Linked DNA regions of Homo sapiens. The protein of the gene in region 1 interacts with the protein of each later gene in a pairwise test. Each region holds a gene or a part of one and is shown on either strand. Other genes may lie near its edges. The genes, in order: TNNT1, TULP3, ARMC8, WDCP, LARP1, HMGXB4 and JAKMIP2.

What was found.
Region 2: the proteins of TNNT1 (region 1) and TULP3 interact in a two-hybrid assay, tested with the Homo sapiens proteins (one large-scale study listed by BioGRID and IntAct).
Region 3: the proteins of TNNT1 (region 1) and ARMC8 interact in a two-hybrid assay, tested with the Homo sapiens proteins (one large-scale study listed by BioGRID and IntAct).
Region 4: the proteins of TNNT1 (region 1) and WDCP interact in a two-hybrid assay, tested with the Homo sapiens proteins (one large-scale study listed by BioGRID and IntAct).
Region 5: the proteins of TNNT1 (region 1) and LARP1 interact in a two-hybrid assay, tested with the Homo sapiens proteins (one large-scale study listed by BioGRID and IntAct).
Region 6: the proteins of TNNT1 (region 1) and HMGXB4 interact in a two-hybrid assay, tested with the Homo sapiens proteins (one large-scale study listed by BioGRID and IntAct).
Region 7: the proteins of TNNT1 (region 1) and JAKMIP2 interact in a two-hybrid assay, tested with the Homo sapiens proteins (one large-scale study listed by IntAct).

The regions. Positions count from the first base shown.
Region 1 is NC_000019.10:55,135,707-55,139,206, forward strand, and holds part of TNNT1 (troponin T, slow skeletal muscle), read right to left. Parts: intron 2,369-3,500; coding exon 2,255-2,368; intron 1,507-2,254; coding exon 1,397-1,506; intron 1-1,396. UniProt on the Homo sapiens protein: Troponin T is the tropomyosin-binding subunit of troponin, the thin filament regulatory complex which confers calcium-sensitivity to striated muscle actomyosin ATPase activity.
Region 2 is NC_000012.12:2,914,891-2,918,390, forward strand, and holds part of TULP3 (tubby-related protein 3), read left to right. Parts: intron 1-3,500. UniProt on the Homo sapiens protein: Negative regulator of the Shh signaling transduction pathway: recruited to primary cilia via association with the IFT complex A (IFT-A) and is required for recruitment of G protein-coupled receptor GPR161 to cilia, a promoter of PKA-dependent basal repression machinery in Shh signaling.
Region 3 is NC_000003.12:138,190,301-138,193,800, forward strand, and holds part of ARMC8 (armadillo repeat-containing protein 8), read left to right. Parts: intron 1-3,500. UniProt on the Homo sapiens protein: Component of the CTLH E3 ubiquitin-protein ligase complex that selectively accepts ubiquitin from UBE2H and mediates ubiquitination and subsequent proteasomal degradation of the transcription factor HBP1.
Region 4 is NC_000002.12:24,033,892-24,037,391, forward strand, and holds part of WDCP (WD repeat and coiled-coil-containing protein), read right to left. Parts: intron 1-3,500.
Region 5 is NC_000005.10:154,793,377-154,796,876, reverse strand, and holds part of LARP1 (la-related protein 1), read right to left. Parts: intron 3,283-3,500; coding exon 3,154-3,282; intron 3,078-3,153; coding exon 2,877-3,077; intron 2,778-2,876; coding exon 2,615-2,777; intron 1,703-2,614; coding exon 1,558-1,702; intron 1-1,557. UniProt on the Homo sapiens protein: RNA-binding protein that regulates the translation of specific target mRNA species downstream of the mTORC1 complex, in function of growth signals and nutrient availability.
Region 6 is NC_000022.11:35,263,993-35,267,492, reverse strand, and holds part of HMGXB4 (HMG domain-containing protein 4), read right to left. Parts: exon of another isoform or gene 3,397-3,500; intron 2,846-3,396; coding exon 1,890-2,845; intron 1-1,889. UniProt on the Homo sapiens protein: Negatively regulates Wnt/beta-catenin signaling during development.
Region 7 is NC_000005.10:147,584,938-147,587,833, forward strand, and holds the end of JAKMIP2 (janus kinase and microtubule-interacting protein 2), read right to left. Parts: 3' UTR 501-2,896; downstream 1-500.

The DNA.
Region 1 (3,500 bases):
AGTAGAGATGGGATTTCATCATATTGGTCAGGCTGGTCTCCTGACCTCAGGTGATCTGCCCGCCTCAGCCTCCCAAAGTGCTGGGATTACAGGTGTGAGCCGCCGCGCCCGCCCGGCCAACAATACTTTACATGAACCATGTGCACAGGAAGGAGGGCCCACAGCGCCCCCCAGAGGGCTTCCAGGAGCCTGCTGTGCACATCCTTTCCCGTCTCCACACTCAGTGTCCCCACACGGGTAGTTTGAAAGGAGCAAGGTGGAAGTATTTACGCCCTGGGAATGGGCATGTGCTAAATCTAGACATTTTGCCCCCTGGAGAGCAGCTGTTAAACATTTACCATGAAGCCACTTTACAGCACACTAGCAAAGAGTACGGACTATTGCACCAGACTGCCGGGTTCAAATCCCAGCTCTTCCACTTGCTAGCTGTGCAACCCTGGAAGGGTTACTTAACCTCTCTGTGCCTCAGGTTCCTCACTATTAACACAAGGATAATAATAGTATCTACCTCACAGGGTTGTAAACCCTCCACAGGAAGCTGCTGCTGTAATTATTATTTTTTTAAGGATGGGGTCTCACTACATTGCCCAGGCTGGTCTCCAACTCCTGGCCTCAAGCAATCCTCCCATCTTAGCCTCCCAAAGTGCTGGAATTACAGGCATGAGCCACCGGGCCCAGCCTGTAATTATTATTACTATCTCACTGCCCTTTCACAGCTCTGTGAGGTCAATTTTGTGATTATATCCTTGTTCTGCCAATGAGGAATGGGAGCCCCAGAGAAGTCAGATAACGTGCGCAAGATCACAAAGTAGCCGGCAAAGCTGGCACTGAGCCCTGGGCAGGGGCTTTCGGTGCAAGCGGCAAACCCGATCACGGCGCCACTCTGGGGTGGTTGAAGTTTCTGAGCCACAGCCCAGGCCAGAGAACATGGAGAAACAGGCGGGCTCCTGAAGGCAAGCCCCCACCAGCCTGCCGTCCTGTAGCTTATCATGAGAGGCAGGCTGTCTTGGCTATAGATGCGAGGGACTCAGCTGGAAAATTCTCACCCGCATTCCTGGCTTGAATTTAGGTAAAAGGCACAGCCCATCCTGAGCTCCAAGGCACATCACGGAGTTAACAAAATCTCCTAAACTTGGGGGAGGGAAGTCATCTTGTCTGGCTTCCTTGGTAACACCTGTCAGATGCTACAGGCCACGGCAGCCACGAAAAGTGGGTTCAGTGACATGTTTCACAAAGAAGGCAGCAGAGGCCCAGAGAGGGGAAGCCACTTGCCCAAAGTCACATAGCACTGGAGCTGAGACCCGGAGTATCTGCCCACCCAGATCTGGGTGTGAGCTCCTTTATCCCCCTGTCTCACACCCAGGCCCCTACACCCCGAGCCCCCCACAGCACCTACCGGAGCTGTTCCTCCCCCATGTAGTCAATGTCCAGAGGCTTCTTACGCTCGGAGAGGATGCGCACCTTCATCTCCCGCCCCGTCTGCCGCTTACCACGCTTCTGTTCTGCCTGAGGGTGGGGGAGGCGGAACAGTAAACTGGGGGCCACATCCCACAGAGCACTGCCGTGTCGGGACCCACACGTCGGATCCCACAGACCATTTCCATGTTGGGACCACAGGTCTGCACCCCAGGCCCATCTCCTTCAGACCTAGGAGTCCAGCCCCACTCCCTCCTCCCTCAGATTCAGGAGGAGTCCAGACCCCCAGTCCCTTCTCTTAGACTGAGTCCAAGCCCCAGACCCTCTCGCATTAGGAACCAGAAGTCTGGCCCCCAGCCCCTCCTCCCTCAGCCCAGGAGTCCAGACCCCAGCCCCTCCTCCCTCAGACCCAGGATTGCAGGCCCCGAGCCCCTCCTCCCTCAGACCCAGGAGTGCAGGCCCCCAGCCCCTCCTCCCTCAGACCCAGGAGTCCAGGCCCCCAGCCCCTCCTCTCAGACTGAGTCCAAGCCCCAGACCCTCTCGCATTAGGAACCAGAAGTCTGGCCCCCAGCCCCTCCTCCCTCAGACCCAGGCGTCCAGGCCCTCAGCCCCTCCTCCCTCAGCCCAGGAGTCCAGGACCCCAGCCCCTCCTCCCTCAGACCCAGGCGTCCAGACCCCAGCTCCTCCTCCCTCAGACCCAGGAGTTCAGGGCCCAGCCCCTCCTCCCTCAGACCCAGGAATCCAGGCCTCAGCCCCTCCTCCGTTAGGAACCAGAGGTCTGGCCCCCAGCCCCTGCCCCCTCAGAACTCAGACCTCAGGCTCCTGCAGGCTGACTCACCTTGACCAGGTAGCCGCCAAAATGGGCCCCCATGTTGGACAGCACCTTCTTTTTCTTGGCATCATCCTCTGCCCGCTTCTTGGCCTCTTCCTCTTCCTTCCTCATCTTCTCCTCCTGTGGGAAGTAAGGGGTTAACCTCATGGACTCCCCTGTAGGACTGAGGGAGGAGGGCCCTGGGATGTGGAACTGGGGCACAGGGATCAGCAGACCCAGTGCCGCAGAGGCTGCTGGGACATCAGAACCAGCAGAAACGCAGGGGTACCCACTCCCGGCCCTGCCACGTCTCCCCGTGTGACCACCTACAAGTCCCTTCCCCTCTGTTTTTTTTTTTTTTTGAGACGGACTCTCGCTCTGTTGCTCAGGCTGGAGTGCAGTGGTGCGATCTTGGCTCACTGCAACCTCCGCCTCCCGGGTTTAAGCAATTCTCCAGCCTCAGCCTCCTGAGTAGCTGGGATTACAGGCACCCGCCACCGCGCCCAACTAATTTTTGTATTTTTAGTGGAGACGCGGTTTCACCATGTTGGCCAGGCTGGTCTCAAACTACTGACCTCAAGTGATCCGCCTGCCTCGGCCTCCCGGAGTGCTGGGATTACAGGCGTGAGCCACCGCACCTGGCCCCCTTCTCTGGGTCTTAATATCCTCCCAGAAAAAATCGAAATGAAGGAGAAGAAGAAATGCCTGCTTTTTCTGCATGTCTCCACCCTGAAATAGCCGATAGTGAACTCTGCTGTACGACCTCACTCCAGATGCTCAGCCTGTCTGGGCCACAGTCGCCCTTAGTCTCAGGATATGAGAATGTCTGTTTTGAGGGGGTCAAGGGAAGTAACTGGTGATAAGACCAGGGACTGGGGAGATTAAAGAGGCTGATGGCCTTGAGCCTGAGGAAGGGGTTCTGGAATATTGAGCGAAGGCATTACGACATTCGAGAAACTCTTCATTGAATGTTCCAGAAACAGTGGTTTGTCCAGGCTGAGCCCCGTCTCCTTATGGTGGACATGAGGCTTTTTGTACACCCAGCACTCCGTACCTGAATTAGTTTCCTTTCTGTTTTTGAGATGGAGTCTCGCTCTGTCACTCAGGCTGGAGTGCAGTGGTGCAATCTCTGCTCTGTTCACTGCAACCCCCACCTCCTGGGTTCAAGTGATTCTCCTGCCTCGGCCTCCCAAGTAACTGGGATTACAGACATGTGCCACCATTACCAGCTAATTTTTGTATTTTTAGTACAAACAGGGTTTCACCATGTTGG
Region 2 (3,500 bases), on another chromosome or scaffold:
CCAAAGTGCTGGGATTACAGGTGTGAGCCACCATACCTGGCAAGATACTCGTTTTCAGGGTATGTGGGCACCTTAGCAAGCTGCAGAATGGATTTTCTTTTCTTTTCTTTTTTTTGAGACAAGAGTGTAGCCCTGTTGCCCAGGCTGGAGTGTAGTGGCATGATCTTGGCTCACTGCAACCTCTGCCTCTCGGGTTCAAGCGATTCTTATGCCTCAGCCTCTCGAGTAGCTAGGACTACAGGCAGACGCCACCATGCCTGGCTAATTTTTTGTATTTTTAGTAGAGACAGGGTTTTGCCATGTTTGTCAGGCTGGTTTCAAACTCCTGGCCTCAAGTGATCCACCCATCTCGGCCTCCCAAAATGCTGGGATTACAGGCGTGAGCCACTGCGCCCAGCCCAGAATGGATTTTCTGATTCTTGCTGTGATATTTCTGACATGGATGCATATTAGGTAGAGTACATTTATTTCGTCTGATGAAAATGGATTAAAGTACAACATAGTTCCTTTGAGCCAAGTTGCTCATCTATTTGTATGATGAGAGGTCATCACTGCACTGAATGATATTTTAAGAAGTCTAGTTTAAAAATTTTAGTCTTACCTTCCTATGATCTTGCTTTGTGGGCGGGGAGATTAAGTTAGTTTTTTTATTTTGTTTTTTTTTTTTGAAACAGAGTCTCGTTCTGTCGCCAGGCTGGAGTGCAGTGGTGCAATCTCAGCTCAGGCTCACTGCAACCTCCACCTCCCAGGTTCAAGCGATTCTCCTCCCTCAGCCTTCTGAGTAGCTGGGACTACAGGCGCATGCCTCCACGCCCAGCTAATTTTTTTAATTTTTAGTAGAGATGGGATTTCACCATGTTGGCCAGGATGGTTTCAATCCTTTGACCTCGTGATCTGCCCGCCTCAGCCTCCCAAAGTGCTGCGATTACAGGCGTGAGCCACCGTGCCCGGCCGAGATTTTTAAACAAACTGATAGACTGCAGACAACTAGCCTGATGCTGGTTGTACTCTGTGGTTGGTCAGTCTGTTGGAAAACTGTCATAGTGTAACCTTAGCCCATCACCTCTAGGGTGACTCCTTGTCTAGGAAAATTGAGAATTAGTTAAACTATCATTAATTTAAATGAAGTTTTATTTATTTTGAGATGGTTGCTCTGTTGCCCAGGCTGGAGTGCAATGGCGCGATCTTGGCTCACTGCAACCTTTGCCTCCCGGGTTCAAGCAATTCTCCTGCCTCAGCCTCCCAAGTAGCTGGATTTACAGGCTTGTGCCACCACATCCAGCTAATTTTTGCATTTTTAGTAGAGATGGGGTTTCCGGCATGTTGGCCTCGAATTCCTGACCTCAAGAGATCGGCCCACCTCAGCCTCCCAAAGTGCTGGGATTACAGGCATGAGCCACTGCGCCGGTCAGAGCTTTATTATTTTATTGGATAAAGTTATTTCATGGAAATTTCCACCTATCTGATCTCCTTTAATTTCTTACTGTTTATTTTGACATCACCATTCAATATTTTAGCAGGATAGTAAGACATACCACTAAATTCTTGGGAAGATAGATTCTTTTACAGTTCAATTCCCAAGATAATTAGGAAATTTAAAAGTGATTAAGTTTTAGTTTATATGACACTTAAAATCACGAAGGCAGTGTGTTTTAATTGCATTTAGGGCATCTAACCATCAGCTCTGGCTTTCTTCCTGGCTCCCTGACTTACTCTATCTTGGTAATGAGTCCTTCATTGATGTAGCCTCGTTTAAAGCACTTTTAGGTTTTCAGGGAAGTAAAATATAGATGGAATAGGAATTGACATTGTTACATTCAAACACAAGTAGCACTTCTCTCCTCCCCCATCCAAACTGCATGACGGTTTTCACCAAGATGGCAGCTTGCACATATATGTTTAATGGTATTTTTCTTATTTGTAAACTTGGACAGTAGTAAGATCATTCAATACTGAGGTATAGTAGCTGTGGCCCTGATTACAGTTTGAGTCTACAGTTGTTTTTTTCTTAAGTCATTGGTCTAAATGAGTTTGATTTGTCTGTAAGTAGATAGAGAGAGGCTTCCCCAGATACCTTGGCAGGAACACTGTGGTCAGGGGTCTAGTCTCCCCTTAACAAGTGAGAGCTTAGTTTGTCAGTGAACTGGATATAACCAGGTCCTTTGGCACAAATTCACGCTAGTTAAACCCACACCAGTAAGTTTTAAAACCAGAACCCCAAGTTATTAATTTATAAAGGGAGCTCTACTCTTTCAGTGTGTATTCATGTCTACTGTTCATAATACTCTTTTCCTGGGAATACGATACCTAAGAAGTTAAACTTCAAATTAGAAGGCTTATTGGTGAGCAAGGAATCAGAGGGAATGAGGTCAGGAGTTTGAGACCAGCCTGGTCAACATGGTGAAACTCCATCTCTACTAAAAGTTTAAAAATCAGCTGGGCATGGTGGGGTGCACCTGTAATCCCCGCTACTCGGGAGGCTGAGGCAGGAAAATTGCATGAACCCGTGAGGCAGAGGTTGCAGTGAGCCGAGATCGCACCACTGCACTCCAGCCTGGGCAACACAGCGAGACTCTGTCTCAAAAAAAAAAAAAGATACTTCTCTTTCTTGGACAAACCTGATAACCCTATCAAATTCTAGCTCTTTGGCCTCCCTTTTCTAGACCACAGCAGAAAACTCCTTTTCTATAGAAAATATTTTCCTTGGCCAGGTACGGTGGCTCATGCCTGTAATCCCAGCACTTTAGGAGGCCAAGGCGGGCGGATCATGAGGTCAGGAGATCGAGACCATCCTGGCCAACACGGTGAAACCTCATCTTTACTAAAAATACAAAAAATTAGCCGGGCGCGGTGCCGGACGCCTGTAGTCCCAGCTCCTCGGGAGGCTGAGGCAGGAGAATGGCGTGAACCCGGGAGGCGGAGCTTGCAGTGAGCCGAGATCGCGCCACTGCACTCCAGCCTGTGTGACAGTGCAAGACTCTGTCTCAAAAAAAAAAGAAAATATTTTCCTTGCATGTGAACCCCATCTCTACTAAAAATACAAAAAAAATTAGCTGGGTGTGGTGGCAGGTGCCTGTTATCCTAGCTACTCCGGAGGCTGAGTCAGGAGAATTGCTTGAACCCAGGAGGCAGAGATTGCAAGTGAGTTGAGGTTGCACCATTGCACTCCAGCCTGGGCAGCAAGAGTGAAACTCCGTCTCAAAAAATAGCTACAGCATTCATTTTTGTTTTTGTTTTTGTTTTGAGACAGTCTCGCTCTGTCGCCCAGGCTGGAGTGTAGTGGTCCAATCTCGGCTCACGGCAACCTCTGCCTCCCAGGTTCAAGTGATTCTCCTGCCTCAGCCTCCCAAGTAGCCGGGATTACAGGCGCTTGCCACCACGCCTGGCTAATTTTATTTTTTAATAGAGACGGGGTTTCACCATGTTGGCCCGGCTGGTCTCAAACTCCTGACCTCAGGTAATCCGCCCACCTCGACCTCCCAAACTGCTGGGATTACAGG
Region 3 (3,500 bases), on another chromosome or scaffold:
TTTGAGATGGAGTTTTGCTCTTGTTGCCCAGACTGGAGTGCAGTGGCGCAATCTCGACTCACTGCAACCACCGCCTCCGGGGTTCAAGCGATTCTCCTGCCTCAGTCTCCTGAGTAGCTGGGATTACAGGCATCCACTACCATGCCTGGCTAATTTTTTTGTATTTTTAGTAGAGACAGAGTCTCACCATGTTGGCCAGGCTGGTCTCAAACTCCTGACCTCAAGTGATCCACCCACCTTGGCCTCCCAAAGTGCTGGGATTACAGGTGTGAGCCACTGCACCCGGCCGAGATTCTTTATCTTCTACATGAACCTGCTATCCTGTATAAACCGGCTTTCTCAGGTTAGAGTGATACAGAATTCTTCCAAACTCCAGTAAATCTTATTCTTCTTACTCATTTGTACATATGAATTTTAACTTTGTATATATATATTCTGTACATCTACTTTGAGCTTCTGCCATTTGCTAGGCAAGCATGGTGTTGAGTTTGGGAATACAGCCGTAAGCTACACAGACCTCTGTCCTTTTGGAAATGTTAGCCTAGTGGGAAAAATAGATATCAAATAATCACACAGTTTGTGAATGGTGATTAGTATTATGAATGAAGTATATAGGGTGCTGTTCAAAACATGTCATAGAGGAAACTGATCTAATATGGAGGGCAATAGGAAGAACTAGGGAAGGTTTCCCTGAAGAAGTGATGCTGAGCTGAAAGTTCAAGGATAAGTAAGAACTAACTAGAAAAAGTGACAGAAGAAGAGCATACAAGGCAAAGGGAACTGCTTTTGCAGAGGTCTTTAATAATACTCTATCTTGTCGTATTAGAGAGTAAATTAATTCAGAAGTAACACTTTGTCTTGCAAATCCTAGGTACTCAGTAAATGTTTGATTGAACTATCTATTTTGGAGGGTTGGACAAACTCTCCAGCCCTGTTTCTAGACTGCACTATGACCACCCCATCCCTCTTTGGTTTGCATTTAACATTACAACATCACCCTTTTCAACAAATTCATAAATTTCTGCAATGTTTTCTATACTTTTGAATTATGTTGATTGCATTTTTAAAAACATTTATTTTGAAATAATTATAGATTCACAGGAAGTTGCAAAGATAGTACAGACAGGTCCCTGTGTACACTTCACCCAGTTTCCCTCATAGGTTACATCTTATATAGTTACATTATAGTATCAAAACAAGGAAATTGATCTTGGTATAAGTATGTATCTGTTTCTGTATCATTTTATCACATGTTTATTTGTGTTACCATTACCACCACTGTCAAGATACAGAACTATTCCGTCACCGCAAAGATCTCCCTCATATTCCCTCTTTATAGTCCCACCTACCCAGCCTCTCCCCGCAACAGGTATCCCTAACCCCTGGCAACCATAATCTGTTCTCCATCTCTATAATGTTGTCATTTTCTATAATGTCATATGAATGGAATCATACAGTATGTGACTTTTTGAGGTTGTTTTTTGTCACTCAGTATAATGCTTTTGAGATCTATCCATATTGTTGTATGTAGCAGTAGTTCCTTTTTATTGTTAAGTAGTATTTCATGGTGTGGATGTACCACAGCTCGTTTAACCATTTACCTGTTGGGCGTTTTGGTTGCTTCTAGTTTTTGGCTATTATAACGTAGTATGAACAATCATGTACAGGTTTGTAAGGACATAACTTTTCATATCTCTGAGCTAAATGCCCAGGAGTGCAATTGCAGGATCAGATGGTAAATGCATGTTTAATTTTAAAATAAACTGACAAACTTTTCCAGAGTGGCTGTACTATTTTACATTTCTACCAGTAATATATGAGACATTGTTTCTCTGTATCCTCACTGCCATTTGATACTGTTATTATTTTTATTTTAGCTGTTTTAGTAGATGTGTAGTAATATCTCATCATGGTCTTAATTTGCATTTCCCTAATGATTAATAATGTTGAGAATATTTTTATTATTTATTTATCCTTTTTTTTTTTTTTTTTTTTGAGACGGAGTCTCCCTCTGTTGCCCAGGCAGGAGTGCAGTGGTGTGATCTCAGCTCACTGCAAGCTCCGCCTCCTGGGTTCACACCATTCTCCTGCTTCAGCCTCCTCAGTAGCTGGGACTACAGGTGCCCGCCACCACACCTGGCTAATTTTTTATATTTTTAGTAGAGACGGAGTTTCACTGTGTTAGCCAGGATAGTCTCAATCTCCTGACCTCATGATTCACCCTTCTCGGCCTCCCAGAGTGCTGGGATTACAGGCTTATTTATCCTTTTGAGACAGTCTTGCACTGTCACCTAGGCTGGAGTGCTATGGCGTGATCTCAGTTCACTGCAACCTCTGTCTCCTGGGCTCAAGCAATCCTTCTGCCTCAGCCTTCCAAGTAGCTGGGACTACAGGTGTGTGCCACCATGCCTGGCCATGTAGACGGGGTTTCACCATGTTTCTCAGGCTGGTCTGGAACTCCTAAGTGTAAGCCATACTCCCAGCTCAGCCTTTCAAAGTGTTGGGATTACAGGTGTGAGCCACTGCACCTGGCCTGAAAATCTTCGCTTATTTGCCATCCATGTTTTCTCTTTGGTGAAATATTTCTTCATGTCCTTTTGCCCACTTTCTAATTGGAGTGTTTGCTTCTTTACTGTGGTGTTTTAAAAGCTCTTTATAGGTTTTATTTTTATTTTATTTTATTTTTGATATGTGTTTCGCTCTTGTTGGCAAGGCTGGAGTGCAATGGCCTGGTCTCAACTTACTGCAGCCTCTGCCTCCCAGGTTCAAGCGATTCTCCTCTCTCAGCCTCCCAGGTAGCTGGGATTACAGATGCCCACCACCATGCCTGGCTAATTTTTGTATTTTTAGTAGAGATGGGGTTTCACCATGTTAGTCAGACTGGTCTCAAACTCCTGACCTCAGGCAGTCTGCCCATCTTGGCCTCCCAAAGTGCTGGGATTACAGGTGTGAGCCACCGCGCCGGCTTATCTTATTTTTTGAGAGAGTTTTGCTCTGTCATCCGGGCTGGAGTGCAGTGGTGTGATCTCAGCTCACTGCAACCTCTGCCTCCCAGGCTCAAGAGATTCTCGGGCCTCTGCCTCCCAAGTAGCTCAGATTACAGGCGTGTGCCACCGCGCCCAGCTAATTTTTTGTGTGTATTTTTAGTAAAGATGGGGTTTCGCCATGTTGGCCAGGCTGGTCTCAATCTCCTGGCCTCAGGTGATCTGCCCACCTTGGCCTCCCCAAGTGTTGAGATCATAGGCGTGAGCCACCGTGCCCAGCCAAAAGCTCTTTATATGTTTTAAATCTGAACCCTTTGTAAGATAGGTATTTGCAAATATTTTCTCCTAATCTGTAACTTGCCTTTTCATCCTCTTAACCACAATTTAAGATGAACCTTGATCTCATACCTTATACAAAAAGTAACTCAAAATGGATCATAGATTTTATCATAAAATAAAACTTTTAGAATAAAACAGGAGAAAATCTGCAGAACCTTAGGTTTGGTGAATAACTTT
Region 4 (3,500 bases), on another chromosome or scaffold:
AAGAAAATAAAACTATACATCACTGTGGTAGGATGAACCACTCAAAGAATATGTCCACTAATATTTTTAAATGAAGTCACAGGAATAAACTGTAAAAGTCAAAACCAACTAATCATTTATTTCACGTCTTATGAAATGTAATTTCTGAAATTACAGGGGAAACTATTTCTTGCTTTTGATTATTGTGTAACTTTTACTTTTCTCATTACAAAAGGAATAAATGATCAATTTTTTAAAAGTATAATAGGGCCGGGTGTGGTGGCTCACGCCTGTAATCCCAGAACTTTGGAAGGCCAAGGCGGGTGGATCACTTGAGGTCAGGAGTTCGAGACCAGCCTGGCCAACATGGTGAAACCCCATCTCTACTATAAATACAAAAATTAGCTGGGTGTGGTGGTGCACACCTGTAATCCCAACTACCTGGGTGGCTGAGGCAGAGAATCGCTTGAACCCAGGAGGCGGAGGTTGCAGTGAGCCAAGATCGCGCCACTGCACTCCGGCCTGGGTGACAAAGCAAAGCTCTATCTAAAAATAAATAAATAAAATAAAAATATAACAGAAATATATAATGCAGACAGTAAAGCCCCCAAAATTCTATCCTCCAGAGATAACTACTGACAACAGCTTGGTTGGATGACATAATTATAAACTAAAAAACTGAGGAATTGAAAGGGCAACAAAACTTTTTTTTTTTTTTTTTGAGACAGAGTCTTGCTCTGTTTCCCAGGCTGGCGTGCAGTGGCACGATCACAGCTCACTGCAGCCTCAACCTCCTCAGCTTAGGTGATCCTCACACCTCAGCCTCCCAAGTAGCTGGGAAAACAGGTGGGTGCCATCACGGCTGGCTAATTTTTGTATTTTTCGGTAGAGACAGGGTTTTGCCATGCTGCCCAGGCTGGTCTCGAACTCCTGGACTCAAGTGATCTACCCATCTCGGCCTCCCAAAGTTCTGGGGTTACAGGTTTAAGCCACTGTGCCTGGCCAAACATGGTTGTTTTAACCTTAGTTTTTAAAAATATAAAATTTTACATTTATAAGTGTTTTAAAAACAGAAAGATATATTATTGTTTGCAAGTAAAATAGCCTATTTAAAGAAAATTTTAAAAATAATATATTTTTATATTAGATTTTTTTTGGATTAGATAAATGTACAGAAAAAATATGGAAATATTTACATCTAACATCTAATAAAATATTTAGCTATATCTGTGATTTTCTCTAAAGGTTGGATTATGGAAAATTTTTACTTTCTGTAATGGTAAAATTTTTTTCCTCAACAAGTATATATTACTTTTGTAATTAGGAAAAAAAAATACTATGCAGCTGTGGAAAAAAAGATGAAAAAAGAGCTCTGTGTGCTGATATAAAGAGCTCTCTAGGACATACTATTAAATGGAAAATGAAAAGGTGTGTATATCACCTTCCCTTTTGTGTAACAAAAGGGGAAATAAAAATACATAACTAAAGTCTGCTAGTATCTGCATAAAGAAATAAAAATAAAAATGGTTACCTAAAGGAGGAAAGGAGAACAGGCTGAAGAAACATAGGGTAGGAATAAGAGTTCTTGGTATACAGTTTTTATTAAAATACAGTTTTGCTTTTTAAACCAAATAAATGAATTACCTATTAAAAAAAGACAGAAGAAAAAGAAAACAAACTCTTTAAAAAGTCATAGTAGGAAAGAAATCCAAACCAGTTATCACATTTATAAATAAAATAATTTTAAAAAAATCAAAACTATGGCTGGGTGCAGTGGCTCACACCTGTAATCCCAGCGCTTTGGGAGGCTGAAGCAGGAGGACTGCTTGAGCCCAGGACTTCCAAACAAGCCTGGGCAACATAGCAAGACCTTGTCTCTATAGTTAAAAAAAAATTTTTTTTAATTAAAAAAAAATTAGGCCGGGCGCAGTGGCTTACACGTGTAATCTCAGCACTCTGGGAGGCCAAGGCGGGCAGATCACAAGGTCAGGAGATTGAGCTCATCCTGGCCAACACGGTGAAACCCCGCCTCTACTAAGAATACAAAAATTAGCCAGGTGTGGTGGCACGTGCCTGTAATCCCAGCTACTTGGGAGGCTGAGGCAGGAGAATTGCTAGAACCTGGGAGTTGGAGGTTGCAGCGAGCTGAGATCGCGCCACTGCACTCCAGCCTGGTGACAGAGACTCCGTCTCAAAAATAAATAAATAAATAAATAAATAAATAAATAAATAAATAAAATAAAATGCTCCTCACAGCAAAGCTGTGACTTAAAAAAAAAAATTAAAACTCTACTACTGAAAACTCCATGTAGTTAATGTGGCAAAAATCCTCTTTAAAAAAATGTAGGGTTGGGGCCACATGCAGTGGCACACACCTGTAATCCCAGCACTTTGGGAGGCTGAGGCAAGACTATCACTTGAGCCCAGGAGGTCATGATCAGCCTAGGCAACATAGCAAGATCCTGTCTCTGCTAAAAAAAAAAAAAATTAGCCAAGTGTGGTGGCATGTGCTTGTAGTCTCAGCTGCTCAGGAGGCTGAAGCAGGAGGGTCACTGATCAGATTGGTGACATACGAGGAAAAGGACAGCCTTATACATAGCTGGCGGGCGTGTGATGATGCACTGTTAAGTAAAAATCTTTGAGAGGCAATCTGGTAACTCAATTAAAAGTAGAAACACATATACTCTTCAAATTTGCATTTCTACTTCTGGGAACCAATCCAACAGAAATAAAGGTACTAATATGAATGGATACATATAAGAGTACTACTGCAGCATCATTTGGAGTAGCTAAAAACTAAAAACAAAGTGAATGTCAATCAACAAGGGAATGGCTAAATAAAGAGCATACTCTCAGTATGAAGTAAAGAGTGCACCATATCACCCTATTTTTGTAAAAACAATGACAAACCATTCCCACATACCTATATATCTATGTACACAAAGACCTGTGTTAGATCATGTGACCATGGAGAAAGTCACGAAAGGATCCATGTTAAGCTGCTGGTTACAGCGGATTAAGGGGAAGATGGGGCAAGGCCATATTTTATATAGGAGGAAAGTGTCCATGATAAAAACATGTATAATATGATCCCACTTATATAATGTTTGGACATGCATGCATAAAGAAATGCATCAAAACATTTTAAATGAACATAACCTTTTCCTTTTTCTTTGAGACGGAGTCTCGCCCTGTTGCCCAGGCTGGAGTGCAGTGGCACAGTCTCGGCTCACTGAAACCTGTGCCTCCCGGGCTCAAGTGATACTCCTGCTTTCCCAAGTAGCTGGGATTACAGGCGCCCATCACCATGCCCAGCTAATTTTTATATTTTTGTTAGAGACAGGGTTTCACCACATTGGCCAGGCTGGTCTCGAACTCCTGACCTCAGGTGATCCACTTGCCTCGGCCTCCCAAAGTGCTAGGATTACAGGCGTGAGCCATGGAGCCCAGCAACATAACCTTTTTTATAACTGGAGGAGTATCTCTATTATATAAGGAAAAGGTTGTCACAATGAAATAAC
Region 5 (3,500 bases), on another chromosome or scaffold:
TATTAGAGATCAACTCATAATTATGCAAACTGGCTAACAAAGGGAGGAAGATCAAACATTAATCTGCCCTTCCTGAACAAACTATACCTCTTGGTAACTGAACAGTTGATGAGGCAAAGTTACTTCTTGAAGAGGTATTCCACCTAATAAATGAAGACCGACTGACAGAATTAGTATATTGTCATTTTGCAATCCTAACGAACACTGCTGGCAGCTTATAGCACAAGAGAGACAATCAAATGAAATGTTATGTGCCACCTGAGAGAAAATACATCATTATGATAAAGTATTCTTGACAAGGAGGGGAAAAAACTTCAAAACCTGAATCTGATCAGGCCTCTAGATCACAATTTACAAAAAACTTGGAGTACAGATGAACATGTTAAAATGACATCCCTGTGCCCTGTGGAAAATCCTACAGGATGTACAACTTAGTCTATTCAAATAATAAACGGCAAAGAAAAAGAAAAATAGAGGCAAGAGGAGACTTAATAAGACAATACACAGGTCTTGTTAGTTTTTTGTAGAGACAGGGTCCTGCTATGTTACCCAGGCTAATCTTGAACTCCTGGGCTCACATGACCCTCCCCTTGGCCTCCCAAAGTGCAGGGATTATAGGTGTGAGCCACTGCACCCAGCCTATAGGTATTATTTGGATTCTGATTCTCACAAACTATATATATATATAAAATATATATATAATATATAAATACATAAAATATATATATAATATATAAATATATAAAATATATATAATATATATACTATATATAAATATATAAAATATATATATAATATATATACTATATATAAATATATAATATATAAATATATAATATATATAAAAATATATATAATATATAAATATATAATATATATAAAAATATATAATATATAAATATATAATATGTATAAAAATATATATAATATATAAATATATAATATATAAATATAAATATATAATAAATATATAATATATAAATATATATAAATGTATATTTTATATATAAATGTATATAAAATATATATAAATATATATAAAATATATATATAAATATATATATGGCGCCAATTGGGATGAATCTGAACTAAATATTTGATGATATTAAGGAACTGTTAATATGTTAAACTGTTAATTTAGGTATGATAATGATACTGTGGCTATTTTCTTTTAACAAGTCTATCTTTTAGAAATCTATACTGAAATATTTGTGAACAAAATGCTAGGTTTTCTAGGATTTTCTTCAATGTAGTATGTGAGAATAAACAGATGAGGGTACAGATGGAATAAGATTAGCCATAAACTGATACCTGCCGAAGCTGATGATGGGCTCATTATACTACTCTACTTTTGTTAAGTGTCTGACATTTTCCATAATGAGCAAGAGAGGGAGAGAAAGGAAGGAAGGAGGGAGAGGAGGAGACTAGCCAAGCCTTGAGACTTCAGCAGAAGTCATCAGATGATGACTCTTCCAGGGCTTTCTGCCTTGGCCCAAACTCCAGCTCCCTAAGGACCTTTCTTTCCCCTGCATCCCAGCTCCAGGGAGGAAGACATACCGCAAAGATGAGTGAAATGTCAGTGGTAAGGGCCTGCACTCGGTGGAAGGAAGCAATAAGGGTGATGGGTAGGAAACCATCAGCATCCATTTTCCTTCGCAGGAAGAAGTCTCGCTCTAAATTGTCCACGCTGAAGTAGTATTCACTAAGTGGAGGGAAGAAGTAGTTATCACCGAGGGATTGGTGCATCAGTTTTATGAGTATGCCTTCCTTGTTCTGCTACACACCCCAGCAATCTCACACAGCCTCTGACCTACCCCATCCTTATCCTATATACCAACAGTGTTGAGGGCTGAAAAGAAATGATGTGATCCCTTCATGACACCCTACCTTGCTTGGGTCAAATCACTCCCTCTGCCCTAAGCCCCTCGACATGCCTGTCAAACTCCTCATCCTCCTTTAAATTCCAGTCCAAATATTGTTGGTCACTTTCTCTTCTGCTCCTAAAACACTTATAAACACTCTATTGCAACCATTTATTTTCTTGTATGACTTCCTTACTGGACTGAGAGACAATATATCAGAGTGGTTAAGAACAAAGGTTCTATAATAGGACAGAAAAGGATTTAAATCTGTGCTTTGTTACTTACTAGCTGTGAGATTCTGTGCAAATTACTGGGCCGGTTTGCTTGTCTATAAACTGGGGCTAAAAGACTCAGCTCATAGGAATTCAACAGATAAGAACTGCAGGACTAAGATAATGCCTCTACAACAATAAACACTGAGCCTGGCCGATACTAAGGATTCAATAAATGTTAGTATTCTGTCAATGTTGTCATTACAAATGGAAGAACAGAAGGGGGTAGATTCTAAATATTTTCCTTCCTTTTTGTAATGGTATAGTTTCTAACTTTCTTAAGGTAAATGTTGTACCACTTCTGTAATAAACAATGAGAATGTGGTATCACTTCTTTAATAAACAATGAGAAAAGCTATCTTTTCAGCCTGAGGCTGAAACTGCTGCTAAGCACCAGAAGGGCCTGCCCAGCTATGACACTCTAGCAACCCCTAACCTCTCACTCATTTCTCCAGGGTAAGAAGGCTTCCGCACACTCACATCTGGCGCTTGATGTAGTCTTTGAGCAGTTCCTGATCCACACTGTAAAGCTCGGTGCTGCTGACATTGTCAAAGTAGTAGGTGATGTTGTTCATGTACTTGGGCGTACGAGGCCCCTCCACACCATCAAACTTTCGGTAGCCAAACTGGTAGTCAAAATGGGCTATGGGGGAAACGGGTGCCATGAGGGAGAGGAGATTCCTGCCCACCACCCCTGCTGCACACCCTTGGACATCCCGGAGCCCAAAGGGGCCTCACGTACTTCGAGTGCCACCCCGGCCGCGTCCCCGGCCGCGACCACGCCCCCGTCCACGGCCACGGAAGGAAGCCCGCGCCCCACCAGCCCCATCACTCTTCACACTCGATGTCTCATCCTGGTCGTGCCAGGCAGGCTCCGGTTTGATCTCTGGTTGCCAGGCTGGGGTGGGGGGGGCCACGGGCACGTAGGTGGCAGACTCAGACCCTATGGGGAGAGGGGTACCAGGTCAGGCCTGAGGGTGTCTCCCAAGTCCAGGCCCTCCATAGTGGGTAGTGCATACCTTTGATCTCTCCGCGATTGGCAGGTATGTGTCTAGGCTCCGGTGGGCGAGTGGGGCGTGAAGCCAGTTTCTCTCTGGGCACTTCAGGCTTCATGTCTATTTGTAATGGAACCCACTTGTGTTTGTTTCCTGGGAGACAGCATGGGTACATGAGAAAGGCTTGAGGGAGAGGCCACTCCTAGCCAGCTCTACCCAACTCCTCTTCTTCTGCCCTGGACTTGGGCCCAAATCACAATCTGGTTACCTTGGGCAGATCCCTTTCCCACACATTAGCCCTCTTTTTCATCTCTAAAATAAGCTGGTCAGTGGCCGTCAGTGTGTTAGAGACTCCTCGTTAACTCCCAAGA
Region 6 (3,500 bases), on another chromosome or scaffold:
TCTGCCTCCATGCGTCCACTTCCACTGAAACCTTCTCCTTCTTCAAGCTTTCCCTGACCCTGTGCTCCGACATTCAGCACTGGATGATTAGTCCATGGCATTATCACGTCACTAGACTGGAAATTCTTAGGATAAACAGAATCTTATAAAGAACACATAGTGTTTATTTCATAAAGCAATTTTCCAAATAAACAACTGAATAAAACCTGACTTAGTATTGGAATATCCAGGTCTTTATGTTCACACTGATTCCTGGCTCAGAGGTACAGCTTTGTGGTTTTTTTGAGATAAACAGATGTGTGTGTGTATATATATATAATATATTATTTTATATATATTATATATACACACACACATACTGATAAACAGATATAGATCTACAGATAGATATAAACAGATAGATATAAGCAGACTTTCTTAAAAGGCACCCTTTATAGTGGAGAAATAACTTCCACCTCAGAGATCAAACTAAATTCCCATTCCTAGATTCTTTTCTTTTTTCTTTTGAGACAGGGAGCCTCACTCTGCTGTCCAGGCTGAAGTTGCAGTGGCAAGATTATAGCTCACTGTAGCCTCCACCTCTTGGGCTTAAGCAATCCTCTCACCTCAATCTCCTGAGTAGCTGGGACTATAGATGTGCACCCCCACACCAGGCAAATTTTTGTATTTTTTTGTAGAGACTGGGTTTCGCTATGTTGCCCAGGCCGGTCCCGAACTCTTGGGCTCAAGGGATCCACCTGCCTCAGCCTCCCAAAGTGCTGGGATTACAGGCATGAGCCACCACACCCAGCCCCAGATTCTTAATACATTTGATTTTCTCGTTCTTAGTCGCTTTTCTTCCAGATTTTATCTGACATTGCATTTTGCAGAACTATAAATAAAAAAAGAAACTTTTAATGACATAGTTATGAGACCCTAAAGTTCACTGCCAGAAACTGTTATGAGGAAAGAAATCAAACCAAGGTGACTGATTTATCATTCCTATCTCCCTAATCAACAGTGAGCTCCCTAAAGTCAACAACTATGTCCTGCTTGTGTTTTTACTTCCTGGTACTATCTACAGCATTGAGCTTGGCATACAGCAAGCACTCAGACAGTAAAAGAACATATATTCGACACTAAAAAGAATACCAGAAAGTAGCCAACACCAGCTGGTGGAAAGTCATTAGCTATTCTGTTAACTTGACTGCTCATTGTTCTACCAATTTTGATAGTCTGTTTTTAAAAATGAACTCAAAGAACACCTTTTGACATCTCCCAACTGCCCTAAGCAGACAGTGATGCTAAGTGAAAGAAATTGGGTTTAGCTCCTTCTGTGAATTCTAAGAACTAGCTGGAAAAAGCCACAGTGTAACTAAACCTATTCCTGGCACAATGGGAGAATAACTCTATTAAGAAACCCTAGGCCGGGCATGGTGGCTCATGCCTGTAATCCTAGCACTTTGGGAGGCTGAGGTGGGTGGATCACTTGAGGTCAGGAGTTTGAGACCAGCCTGGCCAACATGGTGAAACCTCGTCTCTATTAAAAATACAAAAAAAAAAAAAAAAAATTAGTCGGGTGTGGTGGCGGGTGCCTGTAATTTCAGCTACTTGGGAGGGTGAGGCTTGAACCTGGGAGGAGGAGGTTGCAGTGAGCCCAGACTGCACCACTGCACTCCAGCCTGGGCGACAGAGCGAGACTCCATCTCAAAAAAAAAAAAAAAGATTGCTTCTATATCAGACAGACTGGGCTACTGGTAATATTTTATACTTTATATCATTCCAACATATCCCCCAAACATGCTTAATTCCCAGTGGTTTACCTCAACTGCTTAACTTAAAAGTCCACTGACTACCCAGGAAGAACCTGCTTAATCTCTTACCCCCACCACACTTAAAAGATGCTTTACCTTTTCTCCTCTCTCTCTCTCTTTGTCCTTCTCTTCTTTTTTCTTTTTTTTTTCACTATGCCCATCTGTGTGGAGGCCAGGAAGTGGCAGGGGAGGTGCTGCTGCTCCAGCGTATGGGATGCTGGGAGGAGGGCCAGATGTCACTGTGACCTCTCCCACTGGCACGGCAGAAAGTCCTAAACTTCTCTTGGACTTGGAGTGTCGCTTCTCTTTATGCTTCTCCTTGTCTTTCTTCTTTTTGCTCTTCTTTGACTTCTTTTTCTTCTTGATTTCTCGGTAAGAATCATCTATCACTAACTCCCCAGCCTCTAGTTCCCCACCAGAGGATGAGTCTGATTCTACCAGAATAGGTTCAAGCCCTGAAAGATCAAGGTTAGCACTGTGGGACTCTGCGAACTGGGAGGCGTCAGACCCACAGCCTTCAGGGCCAGGAGATGAATGTGCGTCTGAGGATGACTTGTGCTTTTTCCGGGCTGTTTTCAGAAAGCTCTGTAACTCATGTCCTAGGAGTAAAGCACCCTGCTCATCCCGAGCTGATTTCTTTGAGGATTTTTTCACAGTCGCTTGTTGGGAGGGATATTGAAAAGACTCCTCATCAACAGAGCTGCTTCCCTTCTCCTTTGGTGACAGAATAAGTTTCATTTTTAAACCATCAGGCTCCCGAAGGGTCAGTGTCTCTGTGTTCACATAGAGAGGTTTCATTTTTTTCGATTTGTGGGAGCCACCATCCTCTAGGGGTAGTTCCCCACTGCTTCCACTGACTTTCTTCCTGTGGTGCTCCTTTTTACTCTCCGAATGGCTTGAAGAGCCAGAGGATTTCTCCCCAGTCTTTTTGGAGGGCTTGGAGCCTGCTGCCAGTGGGGAAGTGATAGCTTTCAACAGGTCCATAGCTGTATCAGTAGACTGTGGGCTGGACTTTTTCTTTTTCTTCTGTGACGATTCCAAAGACGAAATATCTAGAAATAATCAAGAGAAGTACTGTCAATATGATGGGAAGCAACTTCTAACAAGTTTCCTCTCTCATCAAAAGCACCTAGCTAACATGAGAAAGAGGCTAACAGGAATGATTTGAAGGGAGACCCTTTAACTGATTCCTAACATTGAGAAATGATGCCCTTGTGCTTCTTGGCTTGGTAGAGTCTGCCTCTGACCCTGGACACAGTTCTTGCCACTAAAGTTGTTTCTCTTCATTGAGTCTTCAGAAGCAACCAAAGAGCACATACCCAGAAGAACTGACTATAGCTGTGGGATTATGGGAAGTTAACAATTCAGATTGCAGACAGAGTATCATTTGTTTCTGTGTTCAGGACAAACCCATTCTGGTGAAAGTTGAGTCTCATCAGCTATGTGCATAACATAGCTAAGAAAACTGGTTCTGTGAGTGGATATATACTGGTTGAGAAGTGACCCACAGGTGCAGGCCAGAGGACTACGTATGGCAAAAGGGATGCTAGATAACAATGGGCACAAGATAAGTGGATGATTGGGGGGAGAAGGAACCTGGTACCTGGTGTATCACAAATGCAGACTGTTCTTCTATGCTGAATCCTCCAAAATACCAGCCCTCCACCTCTCTCCTCCTTCACACTGGTTTATCGGCACTCAGAACAA
Region 7 (2,896 bases), on another chromosome or scaffold:
CTTATCATAGTGCCCATAGCACACACAGTAACAAATGCAGAATGGGAAGACAAGAATAAATCTATTTACTGTCCTGGATATAGAGTTTATTTCCCTACATTACACTGATAGCCCTGATTTGCCTCACCCTGTTTTTCAAAAGTAGATTAGAGGAAGGGCGCTGTCGCTCATGCCTGTAATTCCCAGCACTTTGGGAAGCCAAGGCTGGTGGATTGCTTGAGCCCAGGAGTTCGAGACCAGTCCGACCAACATGACGAAACCCCATCTCTACTAAAAATACAAAGAAATTACCAGGTGTGGTAGTGCACGCCTGTAGTCTCAGCTACTTGGGAGGCTGAGGCAGAAGAATCACTTCAACCTGGGAGGCGGAGGTTGCAGTGAGCCAGTGAGCCGAGATCGCACCACTGCACTCCAGCCTGTGCAACAGACCAAGACTGTCTTAGAAAAAAACAAGTGGAAGAGTTCATTAAACAAACAGCTATAAACAATGAAAGATAAAGTTTTTAAAAAATGCAGCTTGTTTTATTTTTATATAAACTAAAACACCAGAGTTCATCGATTCCTATATTAAATACATAAATTATAAAATAACCATTCATAAAACTTTACATACAGTAAGTTGATTCCAATCTCTACGGTAATACATACAGTACATGTACATATTCGGTGTACTTCAGAGGATCATTCTGGTGAAACTCAGTCAATTTTTATTTTTCTTTCATTAATAAACAAGCACTGAAGTGATATATGGAGTCATGCTAATGAGATGGAAAGAAAGAACCCCAATTGAGGCAGTTGATTGAATGAAAGCTCTGTGAAATTGGACCCTTGGCTACATTAACACAGTAAACACCTGGGGAATTATGTATTCAAACACATTAGCTCTATACTTGAGTCCCCAAAGTATTGGATCTTGAAGGCTAAAACATGCATGAACCCTGTTGAGATGGAATTTTTAGCTAATAAAGATATGGGACTTTTGGCTAATTTTAATACTGTAGATTGTGCTGAACTTTCTGTTGCTCTTTCAAAAAAAAGAAACATCAACCAACCAACCAAACAAATAAAAAAAACCTATTTGCTGGTTTATGGGCCTGGATAATTGAAAAACCGAGTGGTCTCTGCCTCAGTCAACAATTGGAAATAATAGTAGTGAACAGAAGGTGGGGTAAGGGAGAGAAGAGGTAGTCAAGGATGGGAAGAGTTCAAACACTAAATGCTCGACAAAAACATGAGTTCCCAGCAGAAGCAGCAGCAGCGCAGAAAAAACCTTTCTTGAAGTCCTGCATCCTAGAACAGAAGTACACGTTTAGTAAGCGCTCACACCATCATACTATGTACAGAATATATCTGTGCATATATTTACATCACATATTTATAAAAATGTTTGGATTTTGATCTGCCTCATTGTGGGAAGTTGCTATGGTTAATGGCTGGTATAGGCACAGTCTGTGAGATGTCAGTCAAATAGAAGTGTTGTTACTAACAGATGCTGGGGATCTGTTTTAGTTGGAAAATTGCATCATCCACTCTTTAGTAAGTTCGTGGGATCTTGATTGTGGGCAAAATTGGGCTCAAAGTTGTTTAACTTTACCATTCTCACCCTACAGAACTTTGCATATAACAAGGATGAAAATATAAGCATGGGTACAAAGACCGTAATGCAGAAAAAAACAAAAACAGGAACCCTCACCAAATCAACCACGTGTATCTCTGCCACATTAATTTGAATATAGGAAATTATAATCCTATTTTTGCTACATTGCCCCTATAAGTATATCTTTAGTAGTTTTTTTCCTCTCTCCCTCTTTTCTTTCTTTCTTTTTTTTTTTTTTTTTTGAGATGAGGTCTCACCATGTTGCCCAGGCCGTTATGAAACTCCTGGGCCCAAGCTATCCTGCCACCTTAGCCTTCTGAGTAGCTATCTTTAGGAATTTTGATTAAGCATTGGACTTGGACTCCCAGCAAGAGATTTATTTAGGAAGAACTAAACCGCCAAACTAATGACAGCAAAGGATTGTGAATCTGCCCTGCCCCATTCTGAAATGGAATAATAGAATTTGGCACTTGAAGAGGCCTTACAGGGATTAGCTCCAACTTTCCATTATGTCTGTATCTTCTTGCCAATATGCCTGAAATTAGATCTCAAGATACTACATTATATAGAAATGACAAGGCAGTAGAACACAATGACATCTTTCCTCACTTAAGACCTAGAAGTCTGCTTAAAGAGGGGCTTGGGTCCATATTGGAAGCATAAACTCATGACATAAACAGTCATCTAAGATTTGCTTTGAATGTTTATCATTCAAAAGTTATATTGAATTTTTTCAATGTAATAGATAAATCTAAATTAGTAAAATGATAGAATTAAACTGCCAAAAGCTGTCATTAATTACCAAAACACTGTTATGAAAATTTCACAAAAGGCAACAAGCAATGCAACTCCCAAATTACAGAGCAAATTTCTATTGCTCTGTGTGTGTGTGTGTGTGTGTGTGTGTTTGTGTGTGTATTCTGTGCCACTCTTTGACAGATTGAAATAATGCAATTAAATATTTTAAAAATAAAATTTCTATGCTGTCCATCTATCTTGATGTAATATAACACAGATGATCCAATTATTTAAACATCAACACAAAACCAATGAATATTCTTTTTACAGTTTCTACAAAAACCTAGGCAGGTTAAAAAGACGTGCTTCATTTTGAAACAATGAACTTGTGAATTATGTTAAAGCAAACATAAGAATTACACAATGGGTTTACAGGAAAATTTGACAGTCAATGGGCAAAAAGGAACAAGTTTGCCAGAGATTTATTTAAAATTGAAAGCAAAGTTGAAACAAAATACTGCAGCAAAATTTATTTGGCAAACTTTATTTCTCCTATTACTA